3 separate regions of the Homo sapiens genome follow, and regions 2 and 3 are each linked to region 1. Evidence: fine-mapped expression QTL. A gene starts in region 1. Each other region holds a variant in brackets. All regions are shown on one strand. Distances are from middle to middle.

The links. PIP is the estimated chance that this variant, and not a neighbour inherited with it, causes the effect.
Region 2: its variant is fine-mapped to the expression of EDA in whole blood (TOPMed, PIP 0.99).
Region 3: its variant is fine-mapped to the expression of EDA in whole blood (TOPMed, PIP above 0.99).

Annotation. Positions count from the first base shown.
Region 1 is chrX:69,612,137-69,619,997 of GRCh38, reverse strand. It overlaps EDA (ectodysplasin A), which reads right to left and starts at 3,885. Exons shown (of 8, transcript NM_001399.5): 1 at 3,294-3,885. The coding sequence starts at 3,689. RefSeq lists a silencer at 3,938-4,057.
Region 2 is chrX:70,013,725-70,021,585 of GRCh38, reverse strand. All of the region lies in intron 2 of EDA (ectodysplasin A), which reads right to left. Among named protein-coding and RNA genes, the nearest start is that of MIR676, 5.2 kb to the left of the region's middle. The variant C/T (reference allele first, on the strand shown) is at 4,749.
Region 3 is chrX:70,081,016-70,088,876 of GRCh38, reverse strand. No RefSeq gene overlaps it. Among named protein-coding and RNA genes, the nearest start is that of OTUD6A, 22 kb to the right of the region's middle. RefSeq lists a silencer at 2,301-2,535. The variant A/G (reference allele first, on the strand shown) is at 2,912.

The DNA.
Region 1 (7,861 bases):
TTGAGGACTTTTATCAGCTGTTAGGCTTTTCTTGAGGAGCAGCCACCAGAATTTCCTGTCTGATTGTAGAAGCCAATCTGCTTTTGATCTTGTACATGGAAAAAATAAGTGTTTTGTAAGTGGTTTGTTTTGTTGTTTTTGACACCCTTCCTGATGATACCCACTACATTCTTGGCCTTTGAGGACCACAATCACAACCGGCGCAACATCTCCACAGAATGATCAACAGTGATTTTTAGTTTTTTACTCTGACGATCATATTACTGTATATTGTCCTAATTCAGACACAAATGAGATATCCCTTGCTCTTGAGATAATCTCCACCAACTATCCAGACAAATCTCAGCTACTTGGTTGCTCCAGCTGAAGGAGATGATTGATTACGGAAGGTCTGATGTGACTCTCTCACTTCATCATCAGCAAGTGTGTCCCCACCAGGGAGACTTTTCTAACATTTCACATGGAGAACTGTGCTGATCTCTCTGCTCTGTATCCTACCTGCCCTAACTTCCTTGTGTGCCCTGCTTAAAAAGTTTTTAAATTGACAGATGATATACATACATCTACAGTGATTTCCAGGTCCCTTTCTTGAGTCATAACTGAGAGCCCAGAGCCCATCATCTCATAAGTATGGATAGGTTTACTTTTGCCTACCTGCATGAAGTGTCTCTGACTGTTCTGCCCACTTGGTCTCATGAGAGCTTCCTGCAGTTTACTCTCATCAGCTTGCCTTCACTCCTTACAGATAAACTGGTAAGAAACCTGAATGTACTGCCCGTTGAAGGGTGTATATTTTTATCTTTCTTCCTCTCCATCCAAGATTTGCTGTAACAGCAGTTGTTTGTGTTTAAAAACTAAAATATAAAAATATGACCTACGTGGCCAAATCCCACAAGGCTGTTTACTTCCTTATTTACTGAATCAGAATCTGTCAGCACAATGTAGAATTCTGAGTGTCAGCAGATACTGAAAATTAAATGTCACTGTAAAGCCAGCAGAGGGTGCACCAGGGCACTAGAAATTTTAACCAAGCTTGTAGCAGTATTAATTTAATACCCAATCAACTTTTTTAAAAAGTTATTTTTGTATACTAAAACTAATATACAAGATAAGATAAACTTAAGTTGAACAACTTAAAATAAACAAGTTGAATTTGGGCTAAAATTCCTTCAAAGTATACTCCAAATCTGAAAGTGAAGTTCAGGAAGAATAAGGAACACACGGTTAAACTTACTGTGGTCAAAATACAGGCAGAGTAGAACAAAATGATGCAGAGCTGAGCCCTCTACTTTGCAAAAGTTCTAATGTGGAGCTCCATCTTGCTCCCTCGCAAAAGGTCCCAGGAGGTAGTTGGGGGAATGGGCACCCAACTAGGAGTTAGAGCAACTATCATCCCAGTTTTGACTCTAGTTATGTGACCTTGGGCAAGTCACTTTCCCTTTAGGGCCTATGTTTCCCAAGGGAATCAAACGAAATGGACTCATATAAGCCCTTCATAACTCTAGGAAACTGATTCCAATTGATGTCAACAAATGTAAAGAGCTAGTATCCTTGCTTCTATTGCTCAAAAATATTAAAACAGAAAGAATAAAAGACAGAAGATAGGAAGCTGTGTTTAAATCTAGACAGAACTATTTTAGTGCCACACAAAGGGTAGGTAACTAAATGCCATTATACACCTGTAAGAGTTTCATGCCATCACAGAAACCTTACAGTACAGCTGTTCTGCTAATCCTCAGTCTATAAAAATGGCTCTGTCCATCCTGAATGCCAAAAAGTATTGGCCAACATTTGATTAAAGAAGTTTAATTCTTTCATCTTTTCACAGAATATCAATGTTCAGCTGCTAAATACTTCTGCTGGGCATTGGGGTGTGGGGGGAGTGGCAGTAGATAAATAAAGGAGTCAGAATCCTAGTTAATTATCGTTTAGCTACAATGTTTAAAGTTTCAAGTATGAGAAGCATGTCTGCTGATTCTCTTCTTTGATAAGCTGTTATATAAATTGGAGTGTGCTAGTAAGACATTTTAAGGCTCAGGGCAACTTTACAATGCACATCTTTTTTTTTTTTTTTAAGTATCAGTCCTAACATTACACTATTATCATGAATATGATGTCTCTATCAAGCGTACCACTTTAGATGGGAGGTCAAAGTGGCACAAATAATGTTTACAGAGTTGTGACAATGACTCTGGATGTGGCAGTAAATATAGAAGGCTTGGGTCCCTCACCTCAAGGAACTTATTTGTACAACTTGCTCTCTTCCCTAAGAGGTACAATTTTATTATTATTCTTTAGCCACCTCGAAAGGATCCTTGGATGCTTCTCCTAAGTTTCACATATGGCAACCAAGACAGTATTTACGTTAAGTGAACGAAATTTACTTGAATAAAAAGCTAGAAAGAATAGAATAGAAAACAAACACCAAAGCTAATAGTTTGCTTATTAGGGCACAAACACCATAAAGATTGCAAAAACAAACAAAACTGCTCTTGGGGGACGAGTCCTGAGTAATTATTCCATTGGCAGATTCCCGTTCTCAAGCTAACAGTAGTAAAAGCGCTTCCCACCCACCCTTCCCACCGCACACCTACCCCGCTTAAGAATCAGAACCGGCATGCAAAGGGTGAGTTTTATTTCCATAGATTTTTAAAATTGCTGTTCAGAAGTTGTCTAGCAAGACGGCATATTTCTACCAGAATTCCTCAGGGGCGCTGATCCTCACTAGAACGCCGAGGACAATCAGTCTCAAATTGCAGGTAAGTGTGAACAAGCCCACGTTCTGGTCAGCGCACAAGGACCCGCGCTGAAAATGCGGTTAAAAGTTGTTTCAACGGGCGGGCGTGGAACAGTTATTACAGCTGTTTACAGCTCCAACTCCAAAGGGGAGCCTGCTGGTTCTGGCATCAGCTCTAGACACGAAAAAACAAGCACCGCGGGCAGAGAACCTCATCACGAGCAGAAGGGCCAAGCCGTTAGTCGGCCGGGGGGCAGCGCAGGCACCTCCTCGACGGGAGCGTCGCCAACTTTTCTCGAGGCAGCCCGCAGCCAGGGGCCGCGGGCGCGCGCGAGACTTTCCAAGTCAAGGGGTCCCCAGGGAGTCTGGATTAGCTGGGCCAGGGACCGAAGACAACCTGCCCTGGGCAACTTCTCCCTTGCTCGCCTGGTCCCTCCCTGGTCCTGCCCTCTAAATTGGCTCGAGGTTGCTGAGTGCTCCCAGGCCCCTGTGGCGGAGGGCCCTCGCCCTACCCGCGAGGGGAGGGGGCCGCCGCCGCCCCTACTAGGTGACTCACCTGGTGCCCGTCCTGGGAGTCAGAGTGGAGTGCGGCTTCTCCCGGTTCCAATGGCTGCTGCTTAGGTGACGGCTGCCCAAGGTGACTGGTGATGGGGCTGTCAGGGTCGAGGCCACCGAGGCTGCTTAGGGTGCCAGAGGTGCCAGGGGTGCCCGAGCCGCCAAGGCGGGACTCGGCTCCACGTTCCCGCCGCAACTCCGAGCGCAACTCTAGGTAGCAGCACAACGTCAGCAGGTGGAGGGCCAGCGAGAGGCCAAAGAAACCCAGGAAGAGCAGGCAGCTGTTCCCTTCGCCCGCCCGGGCAGGGGCCCCGCCACACCCGCAGCCCTGGCTCCCTCGCTCCCGCGGCGCTGCTGCAGGCAGGAGTTCCCTGCGCTCCACCTCCGGGTAGCCCATGGCCTCCGGAGACACCCACTCTCTTGAGGCCCGGGAGCCGCTGCGTCTGCCTCAGCCGTTCACGACCTCTGACAGGCGGCTACTGTCCTGCCATCGGCTGGGGGCTGCAGGGACCCGTTCCTGCGCGACAGTGGCTGGGCGGGACGGAGCAGGGAGCAGCCGCATGTGCAGCTCTACTCCGAGGGGTGGGAAAGGGAGGAGGAGGGGCGGGAGAGAGGGGAGGCTCGGCCCGCCGAGGGAATGAAGGAGGAGGTCCCGGCCGACCCCGCCCCATCCCTCAAGCGGCTGCCGGGACGCCCAACCACGGGGCCGCCAAGCCTTGGCGCCCCGCCCCGTGCCGTTCCAGCCGGGCCTCCAGCCGCGGGGCGGGGCCTGGGGGCGTGAGGGTTCGCCTCTGCCTGGCCGCCCCACCCAGCTCTTCCCGCTTGCCCCGTACCAGTTGGTGACTGGCGCTGTCGTTCATCCCTGGGCTCCGCCCCAGTTTAACCCTATAGCGCCAGTACGGGGAGGAAAGGAGGGGGAGGCTAAGAATTTGGGAACCTTGGAAAGAAAGTAGAGCAAAGAAAAGGAGGCAGAAACTAGCATTAATAGAAATGTTTGCAATTAACTGCAGTTGTTAATAACATCATCCAGTACTTATCTGTTGCTTCCAATCTTCAAAGCGTTTAACAGACGTTAAACTAATTAAAACAGCTCTGGGTTTGGAATGAAACCATGCCTGCTGTGTTTGCAATTCAATGGCTCGCCCGAAGAAAAGGAGACCCAGGAGCCTGGGAACTATGGGAATGGGTGGGACTCAAGCAGCCTCACTCCTGGAGTGACTCTGAAGGCTCAATCTAAGTAACAGAGAAGCCGCCCCATGCCAAGCGGAACTGAAATGATGTTGTCCCTTGAAGGGTAAAACAGTCTCCTAGGATTTCTTGATATATTAATTAATTCAACAAATATCTATCGATCCCTGTACAATGCAAAAAATGCTGTATGAGAGCATCCACAGCCAGAATAGATTTCTTCCACTGCAGCAGTTTTGATTGGAGAACGTATGTCTTCAGTGAGTAGACAGGGAAACCGAGGGCCAGAATGAAGTGGATTTGTACAAGTGTGGTCCACAGAATGGCCAGACACTACTGGCATCTTTATTTACAGGCAACTGTTCTGGCCTCTCCACCCCTCCCATCCTTCTCCTGGAGTACTCCCTGGGGGAAGTTCAACAAGTCAGCCAAATGTTCCAGATGTACACTGCTGCAACTGCAGCATCTTCAACAGCTGCACCAATCAGAAACGGGTTCAGATAAAAAAAAAAAAGTGGCAAAAGGCAGAACAATAGACCCTGAAATGAAGGATGGAAAGGATTAAATCAAGAGTCACAATTGACAAGAGTTACTAGTCTGAGATTATAGAAAGCGAAATGACCATAGCAGGGGAACCATGTATGCTTCATAGTCACTACGCACTCTCATTCCGTGTTATTGAGTAATGAATAATTAACAATTTTATTGACTTGCAGCAGGCATCTTGAGTGTCATCATGGAGGCTCAGCAATGCCGGGGGCACTTATGTGTAGGCCTAAGACCTAGGCTGGTGGAAGAGAAGAAAAACATAGATAGAAATAGAAAAGAAGACAAAATAAGAGAAATAAAACACAAAACCAAAAGCATCTGCTGGCAGGTCAGTCCAGAGAGCACAGAGGTCATAAGCCTTAAATATATTAGCCACAGACAACTTTTCTCTGTACACTTTGTGAATGGTCTCAGTGCTTCAAAAACATCTTTGTGTCGTCTCTTTAACCCCTACCCATGAAATATAAAGTTCACAAAGAATATCATCATCCTAGAGCTAAGGGGAAAAAAGGTGTTTAACAGCTGCTCTCAAGTCCTGCTTGTCCAGTCCAGGAATTCTAGATGCTAGGAAAACTGCCAGGCTGATTTACTTTAATTATCACAGCCCGGGATTATTGGAAAGAATGCTAGACCAGGAGTCAGGAGACTTCATCCTGCCACTAGGTTGCTGGGTCCCTCTGAGCAAGTCACTGTGCTTTTTCAGGGCCTTAGTTTCTCCGGCAGTAAAATGAGGAGTTTGAACTTTAACAGCCTTTACACTGTGTTTTGTCTGTGTTGTCACTGGCCATGTTGACTTTCTTGCATACACAGTTTAAACAGGCTGCCCTTTCTTCCTCTAAAATGAAAAGGAAACAAATGACAGCCATCTCCTGGTGGTGATGGTGATGCTCAGGGGCCACACTGGTCTCACCTTACCATGTTCTACCAGGCTTGACTGAGACTCTGGATTACACCATTGCCCTCAGAAGCCCTGAGGGTTGCATTTGACCTGGGACCTCTCTTTGCTTCCCCAGAGAAAGAACATGTGTCATCATATGCAGTAGAAATGTTGGAATGGGGCAATCCAGAGAGGAATGTATGTGGTTATTTTTTAAGTGTTTTAAAGTTTTGTTTCAGTTAGCTTCTATGCTTCCATACGTATCCTGTCCCCTAAAGCACAGGTCTCAATGACAGCCTGCAGGCCACATCCAGCAAACAGATGTGTTGTGTTCGGTGCAGTATCAACTAAACCTTTGAATTAAAAAAAAAAAAAAGCAATTGTCAGCTATTGGAACTCTGGAGATTTCACATTTTTAAAAAATCCAGATTTCCTGCTTTTCTGTTAAAAAACCAGAAGACCCTATAACTCTGGATTCACATTCCCATGTGGCTACACTCAGCTAGAACTGTCTCCTTGAAATAAGCATGAACAATCAAGTTCCACAGCCATCACCACCTCTTTCTTCTATCCTTCATTACTGTCCTTGTCACTCATTCACCTTACCTCTTTGATCCCAGGTACTACGGGAGACAAGATATAAGCTCCTTAACATGCCCTCTAGTCTGTCTCTCCAACATTATCTTCCACCATTTTACAAGGAAGTCATGCTTGCACACTACTAAATTTGCTGACACTTCTCACACCACCGTGCCTTTGAACAAACTAGTTTCTTTGTCAAGATTGCCCCTACCTTAGAAACCTGATAAATTCTTCAAGAATCAATTCACATGTTCTGTCTGGTATGGCCCCACAACTCACTCCAACCAGACTTCCTTTGTGCTTTCATTGCACCCTGAGCATACTTTGATGATATCACTTACCACACTGCATTTTGAATGTTTCACATGGATTTCTTACCACTAAACTATGAGCTCCTTGATGGTAAGAATTGTGTCCTTTCTATTTTGCTATTTCTAATCTCTAGCATAGCACCTACCACATAGTAGGCACCAATATTGTTTTATTTTGATATTTCTAATACCTAGCATGGCACCTACCACATAGTAGGCACCAATATTGTTTGTCAAATGAATAAGACATGAAGTCACTCACGGTAACTTAGACTACCTAGAATTCCAAAAAGGGAACTTGTCCAAGGGATGCCTGTCCGTACCACTTATGAAACATTTCCTGGGTGAAGAGCTACATGATACATTATGGAAAGTTACAAAGGAAATAGAACCAAATGAAAATTGTGAAATTATCCTCTTACTTGTGCTGCTATGGAAGTTGTGAGTAATCCAGAAAAATAAATAATCCAGAAATTAAAATATAGTTGGTTTGTAATATTTCACTGACCTGTCTGTCTCATCAAGTTTCCCTTCCTACTTTTGTTTGTCTGGCCCTAAAAAATAATATAGCTGGGCGTGGTGGCTCATGCCTGTAATCTCAACACTTTGGGAGGCTGAGATGGGCAGATCACCTGAGGTCAGGAGTTCCAGATCAGCCTGGCCAACATGGTGAAAACCCATCTCTACTAAAAATACAAAAATTAGTTGGATATGGTGGCGGGCACCTGTAATCCCAACTACTCAGGAGGCTGAGGCAGGAAAATCGCTTGAACCAGAGAGGCGGAGGTTGCAGTGAGCTGAGATTGTGCCATTGCACTCCAGCATGGGTGACAAAAGCGAAACTCTATCTCAAAAAATAAAATAAAATAAAATAAAATAAAATAAAATAAAATAAAATAAAATAAAATAAAATAAAATAAAATAAAATAAAATAAAACAATATTAGTTGACAACCCCCAAATAATAAAGATCCAAAATATGTTGTCAACCCCTGAATACCCACCAATTGAGTGGAATATGCTAAGGAGTTAGGCAGGGACTGGTTTTAAATACCTCTTAGCT
Region 2 (7,861 bases), 400 kb before region 1:
TTCTTGAAAATGTGCTTGGAAGTTCTGAGAGGAAAGCACAACTACATAGACATTAATGATATGAGGCAGCGACTCAACCTGAGAAACGCCTTTTTCTTGAACAAGAAAGCTGTTTGGGGAAAGATTTACACAGAAAGGGCTCAGCTCTATCAGCCAGCTAGCCACCACAGCCTAGGAGAGTAGTAGGAAGACAGCCATTATGGCTACCCTGCCCTCTTTGCAAAGGTGTGCTGGCCCGGACCAAGTTTTTGACCGTTTCAGCTGGTTAAGGGTAAGCACTGTTATATCAGACTTCAAAAGCAGACTTTGAAGAAATCAGGCCATCACCAGCCAACCAGTCCTTACAGAGTATGTGTATGGAAGGCAGTAAATAATGAAACGCAACTCACAACTCTACCTTCAAGAACTTACAGTTGAATAGGGAAATACAAAAGATGAGGGAGTGGCTTCAGGAATTATACTGGCCACTTAAGGGGAACAAATAGCTTCCTGGAGAAGGTCTGACTTAAATCCACAAGTGAAAAGAGAGAAATGGAAATTTTAAAATCTTTTTAAGCTTCTATTATTTTCATACAAAATATACCTACTCCTTACACATACATAAACGCATGCATACATACGTATATACATACAAAAGAGGAGCAAAAGGAAAAAGAGCTTATTAAAGCACCCCCAAATAATCACTACTAACATTTCATGCACATCTAGAAGTCTTCTATGTATATAAATAGGTATTTTTACAAAATGGGATCAGATGAAAAATGTCATTTGATAACCTTTTTTATGTCAATAACTACATTTTTACATTGTAATTTTTAATATGGATGCATCAGCGTTTAATCATCTTTGATAAATATTTAGATTGGGTCCAGTTTTTCACTATTATAAACAATGATGTACATTTATAAACAATGTATGTTTATAAGCAATTTATATGTACATTTTATAAACAATTTATATGTACATTTATAAACAATTTATATGTTATGTACATTTATAAACAATGATGTACTTTTTTTTTTTTTTTGAGACGGAGTCTCGCTCTGTCGCGCAGGCTGGAGTGTAGTGGTGCGATCTTGGCTCACTGCAAACTCTGCCTCCCGGGTTCACGCCATTCTCCTGTCTCAGCCTCCCGAGTAGCTGGGACTACAGGCACCCGCCACCACGCCCGGCTAATTTTTTGTATTTTTTTAGTAGAGATGGGGTTTCACTGTGTTAGCCAGGATGGTCTCTATCTCCTGACCTCGTGATCCGCCTGCCTCGGCCTCCCAAAGTGCTGGGATTACAGGCGTGAGCCACTGCACCCGGCCCCACATATGTACATTTTTATACACTTGTCCAAAGGTTTTTTAGGATGTGTCATTAGAAATGACACTGTTGGGTCAAAGGGTGTGAAAAGCTTTCCTTACATGTAGTTAAACCTAATAATCTTTTCCTATATGGTTACTGCCTTCAGTGTCATGCTTACTTAGGCCTTCCCTAATGTGATATTATAGGTAACTCTTTATATATTTTCTAGTTCTTTTATGGTTTCATTTTTATTTTTAAATCTACAATTAATCTGGTATAGATTTTGGCATACAGTGTAAGACAAAGAGTTAACTAAAATTTTTATATTTTTTCCCTAAAATGCCCATGACATGAAGAGTACCAACAGAAACAGGGCTCAAAGTCATTTCTTAAACTTTTATTTTAGTTTCTGGGGTACATGTGCAGGTTGGTCCTATAGATAAACTGTGTGTCACAGGGGTTTGGTGTATATATTATTTCATCACCCAGGTAATAAACGTAGTACCCAATAAGTAGTTTTTTGATCTTCACCCTCCTCCCACTCTCCACTCGCAAGAAGGCCCTGGTGTCTATTGTTCCCCTCTTTGTGTCCATATGTATTCAATGTGTAGCTCCCACTTATAAGTGAGAAGATGTAGCATTTGGTTTTCTGTCCCTGCATTAGTTTGCTTGGGATTACAGCCTCCAGGTCCATCCATGTTGCTGCAAAGAACATGATCTCATTCTTTTTTATGGCTGCATATTATTCCATGACATGTATGTACATTTTCTTTATCCAGTCTACTGTGCTGCATAGTATTCCATGACATGTACGTACATTTTCTTTATCCAGTCTACCGTTGATGGTCATCTAGGCTGATTCCACATCTTTGCTATTGTGAAGAGTGCTGCCATGAACATACATGTGCATGTGTCTTTATGGTAGAACAATTTATATTCTTTTGTGTATATACCCAATAATGAGATTGCTGGGTTGCATGCTAATTCTGCTTTAAGTTCTTTGAGGAATCACCGCACTGCTTTCCACAATGGCTGGACTAATTTACACTCCCACCAGAAGTATATAAGTGTTCCTTTTTCTCCACAATTTCACCAGCATCTCTTATTTTTTGATTTTTTTAGTAATAGCCATTCTGACTGGTGTGAGATGGTATCTCATTTAGTTTTGATTTATATTTCTCTAATGATCAGTGATGCTGAGCATTTTTTCATGTGCTTACTGCTCATGTATATGTCTTCTTTTGAAAAGTGTCTGTTTATGTCCTTTGCCCACTCTTTAATGGGGTTGCTTGTTTTTTTGCTTGTATATTTGTTTAAGTTTCTTATAGATACTGGATATATCTTTGTCAGATACATTGTTTGCAAATATTTTCTCCATTCTTTGGGTTGTCTGTTTACTCTGTTGATAGCTTCTTTTGCTGTTTTGCTATGCAGGAGCTCTTTAGTTTAATTAGGTCCCATTTGTCAATTTTTGTTTTTGTTGCAATTGCTTTTCATGTCTCTGTCATAAATTTTTTTCCAGGGTCTATGTCTAGAATGGTATTTCCTAGATTTTCCTCAAGGGTTTTTATAGTTTTGGGTTTTAAATTTAAGGATTTAATCCACCTTGAGTTAATTTTTGTATATGGTGTAAGGAAGGGGCCCAGTTTCAATTATCTCTGCTTATGGCTAGCCAGCTATCCCAGCACCATTTATTGAATAGTAAGTCCTTTCTAGATCGTTTGTTTTTGTTAATTTTGTCAAAGATCAGATGGTCATAGGTGTGTGACATTATTTCTGGGCTACCTATTCTATTCCATTGTTCGATCTGTACCATACTGTTTTGGGTATTGCAGCCTTAACATATAGTTTGAAGTCAGGTAATATGATGCCTCCAGCTTTGTTCTACTTGCTTTGGATTGCCTTGGCTATTCAGGCTCTTTTTTGGTTCCATATGAATTTTAAAATAGTTTTTTCTAGTTTTGTGAAGAATGTCATTGGTAGTTTGATAACAATAGCATTGAATCTGTAAATTTCTTTGGGTATTATGACCATTTTGACAATATTGATTCTTCTGACGCATAAACATGGAATGTTTTTTCCATTTGTTTGTGTCATCTCTGATTTCTGTGAGCAGTGCTTTGTAATTCTCAGTGTAGAGGTCTTTCACCCCTTGTTTAGCTGTATTCCTAGGTATTTTATTCTTTTTGGGCTGTTGTGAATGGGACTGCATTCTTGTTTTGGCTCTCAGCTTGGATGTTGCTGGTGTATAGGAATGCTACTAATTTTTGTACATTGATTTTATATCCTGAAACTTGCTGGAGTTGTTTATCAGATCAAGGAGCTTTTGGGCAGAGACTATGGGGGTTTTCTAGGTATAGAATCATATTGTCTGCAAAGAGGGATAGTTTGACTTCTTCTCTTCCTATTTGGATGCCTTTTATTTCTTTCTCTTGCTCGATTGCTGTGGCTAGTAGTTCCAATACTGTGTTGAATGGGAGTGGTGAGAGAGGGCATCCTTGTCTTGTTCTGGTTCTCAATAAGAATGCTTCCAGCTTTTGCCCATTCAGTATGATGTTGGCTGTGGGTTTGTCATAAATGGCTCTTATTATTTTAAAGTACGTTCCTTCAATGCCTAGTTTGTTGAGGATTTTTAACATGAAGTGGTGCTGTATTTTCTTGAAAGCCTTTTCTGCATCTATTGAGATGATTATGTGGTTGTTGTTTTTAGTTTTGTTTAGGTGGTGAATAATTTTTATTGATTTACGTACATTGAACAAACCTTGCATTCCAGGGATAAAGCCTACTTGATTGTGGTGGCTTAGCTTTTTTGAGGTGCTGCTAGATTCAGTTTGCTAGTATTGTGTTGAGGATTTTTGCTTTTATGTTCAACAAGGATATTGGCCTGAAGTTTTTTTTGTCTCTGCCAAGTTTTGGTAGCAGGATGATGCTGGCCTCAGAGTGAGTTAGGGGGAAGCCCCTCCTCCTCAACTTTTTGGAATAGGTTCAGTAGGAATGGTACCAACTCTTCTATGTACATCTGGTAGAATTTGGCTGTGAATCCACCTGGTCCTGTGCTTTTTAGTTTCTTAGCAGGCTATTTATTACTGAGTCAATTTTGGAGCTCATTATTGGTCTGTTCAGGGATTCAATTTCTTCCTGGCTCAGTCTCAGGAGGTTGTATGTTTCCAGGAATTTATCAGTTTCTTCTAGGTTTTCTAGTTTGTGTGCATAGAGGTGTTTTTGATAGTCTCTGATTTTTTTTTTTGCATTTCTGTTGTATTGATGGTAATGCCCCTTTTGTCATTTCTGACTGTGTTTATTTTGATCTTCTCTCTTTTTTTCTTTATTACTCTAGCTAGTGGTCTATCTTATTTATTCTTTCAAAAAACCAAGTATGATTTCATTGATCTTTTGTATGTTTTTTCACATCTCAAATACATTCAGTTCAGCTTTGATTTTGGTTATTTCTTGTCTTC[C/T]GCTAGTATGGGGTTGGTTTGCTCTTGTTTTTCTAGTTCCTCAAAGTGTGATGTTAGGTTGTTAATCTGAGATCTTTCTAACTTTTTGATGTGGGCATCTAGTACTTAGCACTGCTTTAGCAGTGCCCGAGAGATTCTGGTAAGTTGTATCTTTGTTTTCATTAGTTTCAAAGAATTTCTTGGTTTCTGCTTAATTTCATTATTTTCCCAGAAGTCATTCAGGAGCAGGTTATTTGTATGGTTTTGAGTGATCTTCTTGGTATTGATTTCTATTTTTATTGTGCTGTGGTTTGACAGTGTGGTTGGTATGATTTCTGTTTTTCTTTTTTAATTTGCTGAGAATTGTTTTATGGCCAATTGTGTGGTCAATTTTAGAGCATATGCTATGTGCAGATAAGAAGAATGTATATTCTGGGTTTTTTTTTAATTGGTAGAGAGTTCTGTAGATGTCTGTTAGGCTCATTTGGTCAAGTATCAAGTTCAGGTCTGAAATATCTATATTAGTTTTCTGCCTCAATGATCTTTCTAATACTGTCAGTGGGGTGTTGAAGTCTCCCACTATTACTGTACGGTTATCTAAGTCTCTCTGTAGGTCTCTCAGAGCTTGTTTTATAAATGTGGGTACTCCTGTGTTGGGTACATATATATTTAGGATAGCTAGGTCTTCTTGTTGAATTGAACCATTTACCATTATGTAATGCCCTTCTTTGTCTTTTAAAATTGTTGTTGGTTTAAAGGCTGTTTTGTCTGAAGTTAAAATAGCAATCCCTGTTTTTTTTTGTTTTTTTTTTTCTTTCTCCATTTGCTTGGCAGATTTTCTCCATCCCTTTACTTTGGGCCTATGAGTGTCACTGTATGTGAGATGGGTCTCTTGAAGAAAGAAGTTGGGTCTTGCTTCTTTATCCAACTTGCCACTATGTGACTTTTAATTGGTGCATTTGTCCCATTTACATTCAAGGGTAATATTGATATGTGCAAATTTGATCTTGTCATTGTGTTGTTAGCTGGTTATTATGTAGACTTGATTGTATAGTTGCTTTATAGTGTCAATGGTCTATGTACCTAATTGTGCTTTTGTGGTAGCCAGTAATGGTCTTTCATTTCCATATTTACCACTCCCTTAAGGACCTCTTGTAAGGTCTGGTGGTAATGAATTTCCTTAGCATTTGCTTGCCTGAAAAGGATCTTATTTCTCCTCTGCTTATGAAGCTTAGTTTGGCTGGACATGAAATTCTTGGTTGGAGTTTCTTTTTTTTATTGTTGTTTAGATGGAGTCTCACTCTGTTGCCCAGGCTGGAGTGCAAAGGCGTGATCTCGGCTCACTGCAACCTCCGCCTCCTGGGTTCAAGTGATTCTCCTGCCTCAGCCTCCCGAGTAGCTGGGATTACAGGCATGCACCACCATGCCCGACTAATTTTTGTATTTTTAGTAGAGACAGAGTTTTGCCATGTTGGCCAGGGTGGTCTCAAACTCCTGACCTCAGGTGATCCACCCGCGTTGGCCTCCCAAAGCGCTGAGATTACAGACGTGAGCCACTGTGCCTGGCCGGAGTTTCTTTTCTTTAAGAATGCTGAATATAGGCTCCCAATCTCTTTTGGCTTGTAGGGTTTCTGCTGAAAGGTCCACTGTTAGCCTGATGGGGTTACCTTTGTAGGTAGCCTGCCCCTTCTCTCTAGATGCCTTTAATACTTGTTCTTTCATGTTGACCTTGGAGAATCTGATGACTATGTGTCTTGGGGATGGTTGTCTTGTACAGTATCTCATAGGGGTTTTCTGCATTTCCTGGCTTTGAATGTTGGCCTCTCTAGCGAGTTTGGGGAAATTTTCATGGATAATATCCTCAAGTAGGTTTTCCAAGTTGCTCGTATTCCCTCCCTCTCTTTCAAGAGATGCCAATGAGTGTTAGATTTGATGTCTTTACATAATTCCCTATTTCTCAGAGGTTTTGCTCGTTCTTTTAAAATTCTTTTTTTCTTTATTTTTGTCTGACTGATTTAGTTTGGAGAACCAGTCTGTGAGATCTGAGGTTCTTCCTTAGCTTAGTCTATTCTGCTGGTAATACTTGCAATTGCATTATGAGATTTTTATAGTGTATTTTGCAGTTCTATCACATCAGTTTGGTTCTTTCTTAAAATGTCTATTTCATCTTTCAGCTCCTGTATCATTTTATTGTAGTCCTTAGATTCCTTGGATTGGGTTTTGACTTTCTCCTGAATCTTATTCTGAATTTTATGACTATCATTCCAGCCATTTCAGCCTGGCTAAGAACTCTTGCTGGATACCGGTACATTCATTTGGATGTAAGGAGAACTCTGGCTTTTTGAATTGCCAGAGTTCTCATGCTGGTTCTTTCTCATCTGCGTGGGCTGATGTTCCTTTAACTGTGGTATAATTTCAGTTATGGTCAGTTGACTTTGTTTTTGGATGTATCAGAGGGCTGAGGCTTTGCGCTAGGTCTTCATTTGTAGCTGAACTCTTGTCCTTGATTTTATCGGGGGGTACGCTAGCAAAGTATTTTTGTTGTTGAAATTTGAGCTGTGATCCAGTAGATAGCACTTAGGCATAATGGCCAGTAGGCAGGCTCTTGCCCAGCCATGTGGTTCCTCTGTATTTCCTTGTGTCTTCAGCTGTGCTCCCTCTCAGTGATCTGAGGGTGTGGGCTCCCTTCCTACATGAGTGCTGGCTGTAGATCTCAGCTCTCAGCTCTCCACTTGGCACTCCTGGGCTGTGCTCAGGCATTATGTTCCCTCCCCAGCTTGGGGACTGAAAGGGCCAGGACCTTGGCAGTGGCAATGGCAGAGGGCCTGCCACTTGTATCTTGGAGCTCCACCCCAGATAAATATAGAGCCACTACCGATTGGAGCAATCAGCCTGGGGTAGGGCAGCTGTGCCGTGGGCCCAAGCCAGGGCACCCTGCCTGGTAATGAGTAGGGAGGCAGGGGTATTGTAGGGGAAGACAGACTGGCCTCTTCTCCTTAGGGCAGCTGTGGTATGCTGGAGGTGTGAGTAAAGCACTCAGGATCTTAGTTCCTTTTCCAGTCAGAGAGCAGCAAGGGCAGTATCAATGCAGTGGCAGTGGCAGAAGGGCTTTCAGTCGTCTCTGGGAGCTCCAC
Region 3 (7,861 bases), 470 kb before region 1:
ATAATCAACAAACACATCTACACAGTGTACAAGAATAAGGATAAAGACATACCTGAGAGCAGACAGTGAACACAACAGGCAGGGGAGAGCCAGTGAACTGGCCACTCTTCTAACTAATCAGGAAAGGCTCTCTGGATCAGGTGGAATTTCAGGTTGCTGAGCATGTCTGCCCTCTCTGTAATTTGATTAAAATTGGTTTAGAAATTTGTGCTATATTTCAAGTGAGTGCTGTGCTTAAAATGTAATTGCATTTGGCTGCGTATTTGACATTCTTGAAATTAGAGCAGCTTGCGTGCAATAAGGAAATTTGTCCAGAATGGAATTTGATTTTTAAGCCAATGCATAGAAGAGCAGTTGTGATCTGAGCCTCTGATGGATAGTTCTTTTAGGGTTGCCTCTCGGCTGGCTCTCTCTTTGCACTTCCTGTTCATTCTGGAACTCTTCTCTGGCGCTCAGAAAGAGGGAAGCTTCTTGACCCGGGACTCCAGAAACCACATTTTTCGTGGCAGTCAGAGTTGGAGCCATCTTGATTTCCCCGTCTAGGCCTCTTCTATGCATCTGCCAGCCTCCGACTATGTATGCCAGACTGGGGCAGTTAGAGACCTTGTCTTTGTCACCCAGGACTTAGGACCTTTTTCTGGGATCCGAAACTCCCAGAGCTGGTACTCTGTTCAGACTGGCTTGCTCTCCTTTGTCAGAACCCAAAAGAGCTGTCACATTGGCAGGCAGGCAGACAGCAGCTTTATCTAATCTTCTTCTGGTCTTATATTTGTTTCCTGGGCATGGCATGTAGAGGCCTCCAATTTGGCATCAGTCCAAGGGATAGGGCTGGCCTCTCTATGTCTCAGCTTTCCTTAGTAAACATATGCTGCCAGGCCAAAGGAAGGAAAGAAACATTTTTAGAGCACATGCTCTGTGTCAAGTGCTTTCACAAATGCCTCGTTAAATCCTCACAATACACTGAAGAGGTAGGTCTTGCTTTGTTTTTGCAAGGGGGAAACGGAGGCACAGAGCAGTGAAGTAACTTGCTCCAAGGTCTCAGTGCTAGAAAGTGGGGGAGCTAGAATTGCAGTCTAATTGGATCGATTCTCAAAGCAAGCTTTTCCCAGTTTAACACAGCTTCTCTGCAACAACTGTGGCATTCCTACCAAGTAGCAGTCTGTCTGTCTGGGAGCAGACACTATTAGGCCCTGTCAGTTCTCCATCCCAGGGCTTACCTTTGTGCCCAACTGGGGCCACCACCACCATTCTCACCACACCTGTGAAGGGCCAGCTGATAGTGGCCTTTGCTCCTCTAAATTCTTTTTTGTTTTTCTTTTTGAGTCAGGGTCTCACTCTGTCACCCAGGCTGGAGTGCAGTGGTGTGATCACAGTCCACTGCAGCCTCGACCTTTTGGGCTCAAGTGATCCTCCCACCTCAGCCTCTTTTTTTTTTTTTTGAGATGGAGTCTCGCTCTGTCACCCAGGCTGGAGAGCAGTAGCATGATCTTAGCTCACTGCAACTTCCACCTCCCGGGTTCAAGCGATTCTCATGGCTCAGCCTTCCGAGTAGCTGGGATTACAGGCGTCTGCCACCACACCCGGCTAATTTTTGTATTTTTAGTAAAGAAGGGGTTTCACCGTGTTGGCCAGGCTGGTCCTGAACTTGTGACTTCAAGTGATCTGCCTGCCTCATCCTCCCAAAGTGCTGGGATTACAGGTGTGAGCCACTCCATGTGGCCTCAACTCATCCTCCTGAGTAGCTGAGATTATAGACGCACGCCATCATGCCCTGCTAATTTTTCTATTTTTTTGTAGAGAAGGGGTTTCACCATGTTGCCCAGGCTGGTCTCGAACTCCTGGGCTCCAGCAATCCTCCCACCTCAGCCTGCCAAAGTGGTGTGATTACAGGCGTGAGCCACCGCACTGGTCTGCTCTTCTAAGTTCTAATTGGCCAAAAGTTTGACCCAGCACAGAGGTATAATTTGACAGGCAGGCTGCTGAGACAGGTTTGTAAGTGTCTCGTTTGAGCCACTTCCAACAGAACATGCCCCTGAGGTATGAGGTCCACCACCCCTCCATGCGCCCAGAGCATAGTGTGGTGTGAGAGGGATGATGTCCTGGAGCCTTGAACACAACTCTTCCTTCCCTTGGGGAGGCAGCTAGTTCTGAGAACCTTTCCCTCCTTGGGATGCTTGGTGTTTACCATATCTGACTCATATAGCTGTGTGCCCAGGCTGTTTCATGACAGGATGCCCACCACTCTTGAAAGTTAGCACAGCTCCTTTTGGGGAGGTATTTGTGCTTCCATTATGAAAGAGGGCTTCTGTAGAATGAGCTGGGTTTTGCTCTCCACTGCTACTTCCCTGAGGGACCAAGGTGGTGGGGTAGGGTCTTCTTCAATGATTATAAACCCAGGCTTAAGTCTCTTTCTCTACTACCATTTTTCTTACTGGATGAACCTCTTATGGAAGGAACAATTCTTTTACAGAGGTGAAAGTCTTTGCCCTCCAACTTGGGGTTTGTCCTGGAGTCTACTGGCAAAAAACAACTGCAGCAAACCTTCTGTTTAAAGTGTGTGTGTGGCCAGGTGCAGTGGTTCACACCTGTAATCTCAGCACTTTGGGAGGCCGAGGCGGGAGGATTGCTTGAGCACAGGAGCAGCCTGGGCAACATGAGACCCCGTCTGTATTAAAAAAACAAAACAAAACAAAAGTCAGGCTGGGTGCAGTAGCTCACGCCTGTAATCCCAGCACTTTGAGTGGCCGAGGCAGGTGGATCACTTGAGCCCAGGAGTTTGAGACCAGCCTGGGCAACATGGCGAAATCCCGTCTCTACTAAAAATACAAAAATTACCCAGGCGTGGTGGCTTGCACCTGTAGTCCCAGCTAATTGGGAGGCTGAGGTGGGAAGATCACCTGAGCCTGGGGAG[A/G]TCGAGGCTGCAGTGAGCTGTGATCATGCCACTGCACTCCAGCCTGGGTCACAGAGTGAGACTCTGTCTCAAAAAAAAAAAAATAGCGTGTGTGTGAGGTGGGAGAGCTCAAGATGGAGACATCCATTGAGCATTGTATTGAATGAAAAAAAAGAGCACCCCCCCATTCCCCCCGCAAGACAGAGTCTTGCTCTGTCACCCAGGCTGGAGTGCATTGGCGTGATCTCAGCTCACTGCAACCGCTTCCTGGGTTCAAGCGATTCTCCTGCCTCAGCCTCCCGAGTAGCTGGGATTACAGGTGCCTGCCACCACACCCAGCTAATTTTTTTGTATTTTTAGTAGAGATGGGGTTTCACCATGTAGGCCAGGCTAGTCTCGAACTCCTAGCCTCATGATCCGCCTGCCTCAGCCTCCCAAAGTGCTGGGATTACAGGCATGAGCCACTGCGCCTAGCCAAAAATAAAATTTTTTAAATTAAAAACTTTTTTAAACGTTGTACCTGGTGGTGGGCGGCGCCCTTTGTGGATTCCAAGCCCTTTGTTTTGAAGGAAGAAATCTGAAGAAAATGCCAAGGAGGCCTTCACCTGGGCAGGGGGATGGGGTAGGTAACGAGATCTAGGGCCCAGGGAGTCCAGGGATATTTGAAGAGCAACTGGTTTATCCATTTGCTACCTTCTCAGAACCCCTGGGCTTCGCTCAACTATTTATGCTAATCCTGTAGGCATGTGAGTTACCTGCCATTTACATAATGTCTTAGATTCATGGACCAGCAGCATTAGCATCATCAGGCGTTTGTTAGAAATGCAGACTCTCAGGATCCTAAATCAGAATCTTCATTGTAACAAGATCCCGGGGTGATTCAATGCACATGAAAGTTTGAGAAGCACTTGTTTAGTAGACAATGGACATCTGCTCTGGAAACTTGGACAAAGTTCCTGGGCCTCTGGATTACTTGCCCATGTTTGCTGTTTTGTCACCTCCTATCCTAAATCCTAAAGGGCCTATGGGTTTGTTTCAAAGACAGCAAGAAATCAGGGAACCAGAGAAATGTATCCTACTTTGTAGGCAGTCTGAGAGAGGAGAGGTGACGGTAGCTAGAAAGGAGAGACGCTCATGGACCTAATTGGGGCTTATGAGAGAATCAAAGTGCTACCCAACATCCATTTCCTAGTTATATTTAGATGTGACCTGGTTGCCAGATGTTAAATCAGCCTGTTAAAGCCCAGGGCTAAGAAGCCAAGGGTTATGAAATGAAACCAGGCTGCTGAACACAAACAGAGAACAAGCGTTTTAGCTGTAAAGTTTAACTGGATGCTTAAATGTGCTCTCCTGTAAACTTGTCATACAACCTGAGCTTGCACTCCTCCAGTGACAGGGAACTCATTACCCAGTACCTCACAAGGTATCCATTCTGATTCATGGTCGATCAGTTCTCTTAGAAAGTTAATTCCTTGTATTGAGCTGAAAGATGCCTCCCTGAAATTTCTACCCACTTATGAATCCTAGTTCTGCCCCTTGGGCACCACCCCTCACATCCCACCTGCTCTTGCAGCTTTATAATAGCCCTTCAGAGGTACAGAACCCACACTGCGTTGATGTAGTGAATGCTTATAATTTTATGTTGCCTCGGCATTCATTTTGAATGCAGGTTTAGCTTTCTCGTGCCAGAGGCAGGTCTCATTCAATCACCCTTGACACCGTTTCCAGTACCGTTTCCAGTTCGACACCACACCCAAATGGCTCCAGTAGGTGTTTGGAGATAAGAACTTAGAGACATCTCTGGTGCAGGACCATTCAAGCATTTGCCTGTGAAATTAAAAGCGACCCCCACACACCCTATTCTCCAATATATGCTGCTAGTTGACATGCTCTCTTCTCTCTCACGTGCTCCCTGACCTTGTGTGTGTGCCTGTGTGCATGCGGCCTCCAGGGCATGCCGTGTACACCCCAGGGTGGGTAAGTGCTAATAAGAACTCTTAGACTTTCACATTGTAGTTGTGTCATTGAAGCAGTGCCCGCAGTCTGACCCCTGACCCTGAGGCTGCCTGCCAAAAGGGACCCATGCAAGTTGGTCCCCTGCTGATGTTCTTTTGACAGGGCCTCTGGTGGCTGCGAGGGACAGTTGCTACCAGCTAAATTGATTTTAAAAAAACTTGGGCCGGGCGCGGTGGCTCACACCTGTAATCCCAGCACTTTGGGAGGCCGAGGCAGGTGGATCACGAGGTCAGGAGTTCAAGACCAGCCTGGCCAACATGGTGAAACCCCTTCTCTACTAAAAATACAAAAATCAGCTGGGCATGGTAGCGGGTGCCTGTAATCCCAGCTATTTGGGAGGCTGAGGCAGAGAATCGCTTGTACCCAGGAGGTGGAGGTTGCAGTGAGCCGAGATCGTGCCACTGCACTCCAGCCTGGGAGACAGAGCAAGAATCCATCTCAAAAACAACAACAACAACAACAACAAAAAACAAAACAAACAAACAAAAACCAACTTGAAGAAGTTCATTCAAAACACTCAAGTCTTCTCTTCTTCAAGCTAAGCAGCCCCAGCTCCTTCAACTGTTTCTCTTGGGACCTGGGTTCCAGCTTTCTCTCTAGCCTCTCTGTGTCCCGCGTAACTGACATCCAAAACAGGATTAAGTTGCAAAGGAGCAAAAGACACACCAAGAGGCTAAGCAGCAGCCTGGCCCTGTGGCTGGTGACAGGTCTCCAAATGCTTGCCAAGGAGGCTTAGCTTAGAATCTAAGGCCTTTAGTCAGATGGTAATAAAGGACTTTAGTTGATTTGAGAGCACTTTTAGAGCCTGGTGTTTCCCACCAGGGACAGAACAAGGCAGATTTTAAGCAGTTGGCCATCCTTGCAGTACTGGTTCCCAAGCTACTCTTTTTATCAAGTCTTTCTTGAATACATTAGCCTCTTTCAATAACCAGTATGCTCTCCATCTAGGGAGGGCCTAGCAGCAGTTTTATGTCCATCTCCCTGCCACTCTCACTTTGCCAGATGTAGCTCTATACTGCGTGACACTTCCCCTGTCAATGACTGTCTTCACCAACGAGGGACCCTAGTCAGACGAGTCATAAAGGAGTACAACTCTCACTTTGCCTCATTATTAGGTTTTAGTCCCCCTTTCTCCTCCTGAGCTGGTCACAAGACTTTTCGGGTGATTTTCATGAGTCTACTTGAACATTCCATTGCCTAACCTACTTTTCAGGTCATACTTTCAGTGGTCCTGCACCCCCCAACTATGGTGAATGATAAAAACAAAGCAACACTGATAGCTAATATTTACTGAGTATTGGATGTTTATTATGTTTCAAGCACTTTACATATATCAACTTATTTAATACAACAACCTTATGAAATGGGTACTATCTATTATTAGCCCCATTTTTCAGATGAGAAAATTGAGGCACAGAGAGGTTAACTCACTTGCCAAAGGTTGCACAGGTAATAGTAGTACAGTATTCAGAATCTGGCTCCAGAGTCTACATGCTTAGCCACTGTCACCCTACAGGCAAAACTTCCTCAGTGTGGCCCACAGACTACCTACATTAGAATCATTTGAAGAACTTATTTAAAAAGTCCCAGTTTCTGGGGAAACTGTCCCTCCATGCTCCGTCTTAGAGGGTGGATCCTTCTTCACTTCATCCTCTGTCTGTGGATCTCACATGCCACTATGTCTCTTAAACTTAAGGGACATCGGAAGCACCTTTAGAGCTGGTTAAAAATGCTGTCACGGGGAATCCACCTCCAGAGAATGCCATTCAGTAGGCCTGGGGTGGGATTCAGACATGTGCAATTGCTTTAACTGTGATAGACATTGAGGAATCCTCACTGCATATTTTCTCCAGCTTTCTTTACCCACTCCTGGCCTCCTCATCGTTCAGCAAGGTCCTCAACAATCTACTTTACCTAAGGTGTGTTCTCTCTGCTCTCTAGTGCACAGAACTCTTGGCTTTTCAGATCTTAGGGGAGGCCATTCCCTTGGGCAAAGCTGTACATACTTGGGTTCTTGATCCATCCTTTCTGGTCGCCTGAGGGAGGGATCAAGCACTTTCACTCCCCTTTCCCTGGCTTCTCTCCTGAAACATAAATGCGCTCAACCCCTGCCTATACAACAGAACAAAAAACAAACCTCCCTGTTTTCTGCATGATTTACTGTTCTCTTTTTTCATTCACTATAAACTTCTTGAAATAGTAGTCTATAACCTCCTTGGGCAAGTTACTTAACCACTCTGTTTATCAGTTTCCTCATTTGTAGAATGGAGACTATAATAGTGCATACTTCAGTGGGTTGGGGAGAATTAAATTTGTCAATATATGTAAAGTACTTATAGCAATATTTGGCACAGGATAAGTGTTCACTGAAATAATTATTAGCCATATACATGGTAGTTATTGTCACTATTGTTATTCACAATATCCAACCTAGTCTCGGTCACCATCCTAAAATTCTGTAACATTCAACTCCTCTGTTTGACTTTCCCCTCTTTTTTGCTTTTAATGTTATTTATTAAAATAGAAGTATAACACATATGCAGAAAAGTTCCCATTTCATAATGGTCCATCTCCACGAGTGCTCCCAAATGAATACAGCTGTATTACCAGTGCTCAGATCCAGAAATAACACATTTATGATTACCCCAGAAGTGTCTCCCCAACCCCCATCCTCCTGTTGCCTTAGTCACATCCTCCTTTGTAAACATTTATTTTAACATTTATAGTTTTTATATAATACTGAAAAACTTAGGAGGATGACAATGAATTTTATAGTAAATTACCTACTTGCTTGTATGGTTTTATTCTATAAGTTACTTTGCAGCTTCATTTTTCTAGTAAGTCCTTAAAATATAAAGCTATTTTTAGGAAAACATTGAATTTTTTAAAAATTTGAATTATTAGTTTGATCAATTTTCAGTTTTTTAAGGGAGATTTTAACTTTTCTTCATGTTA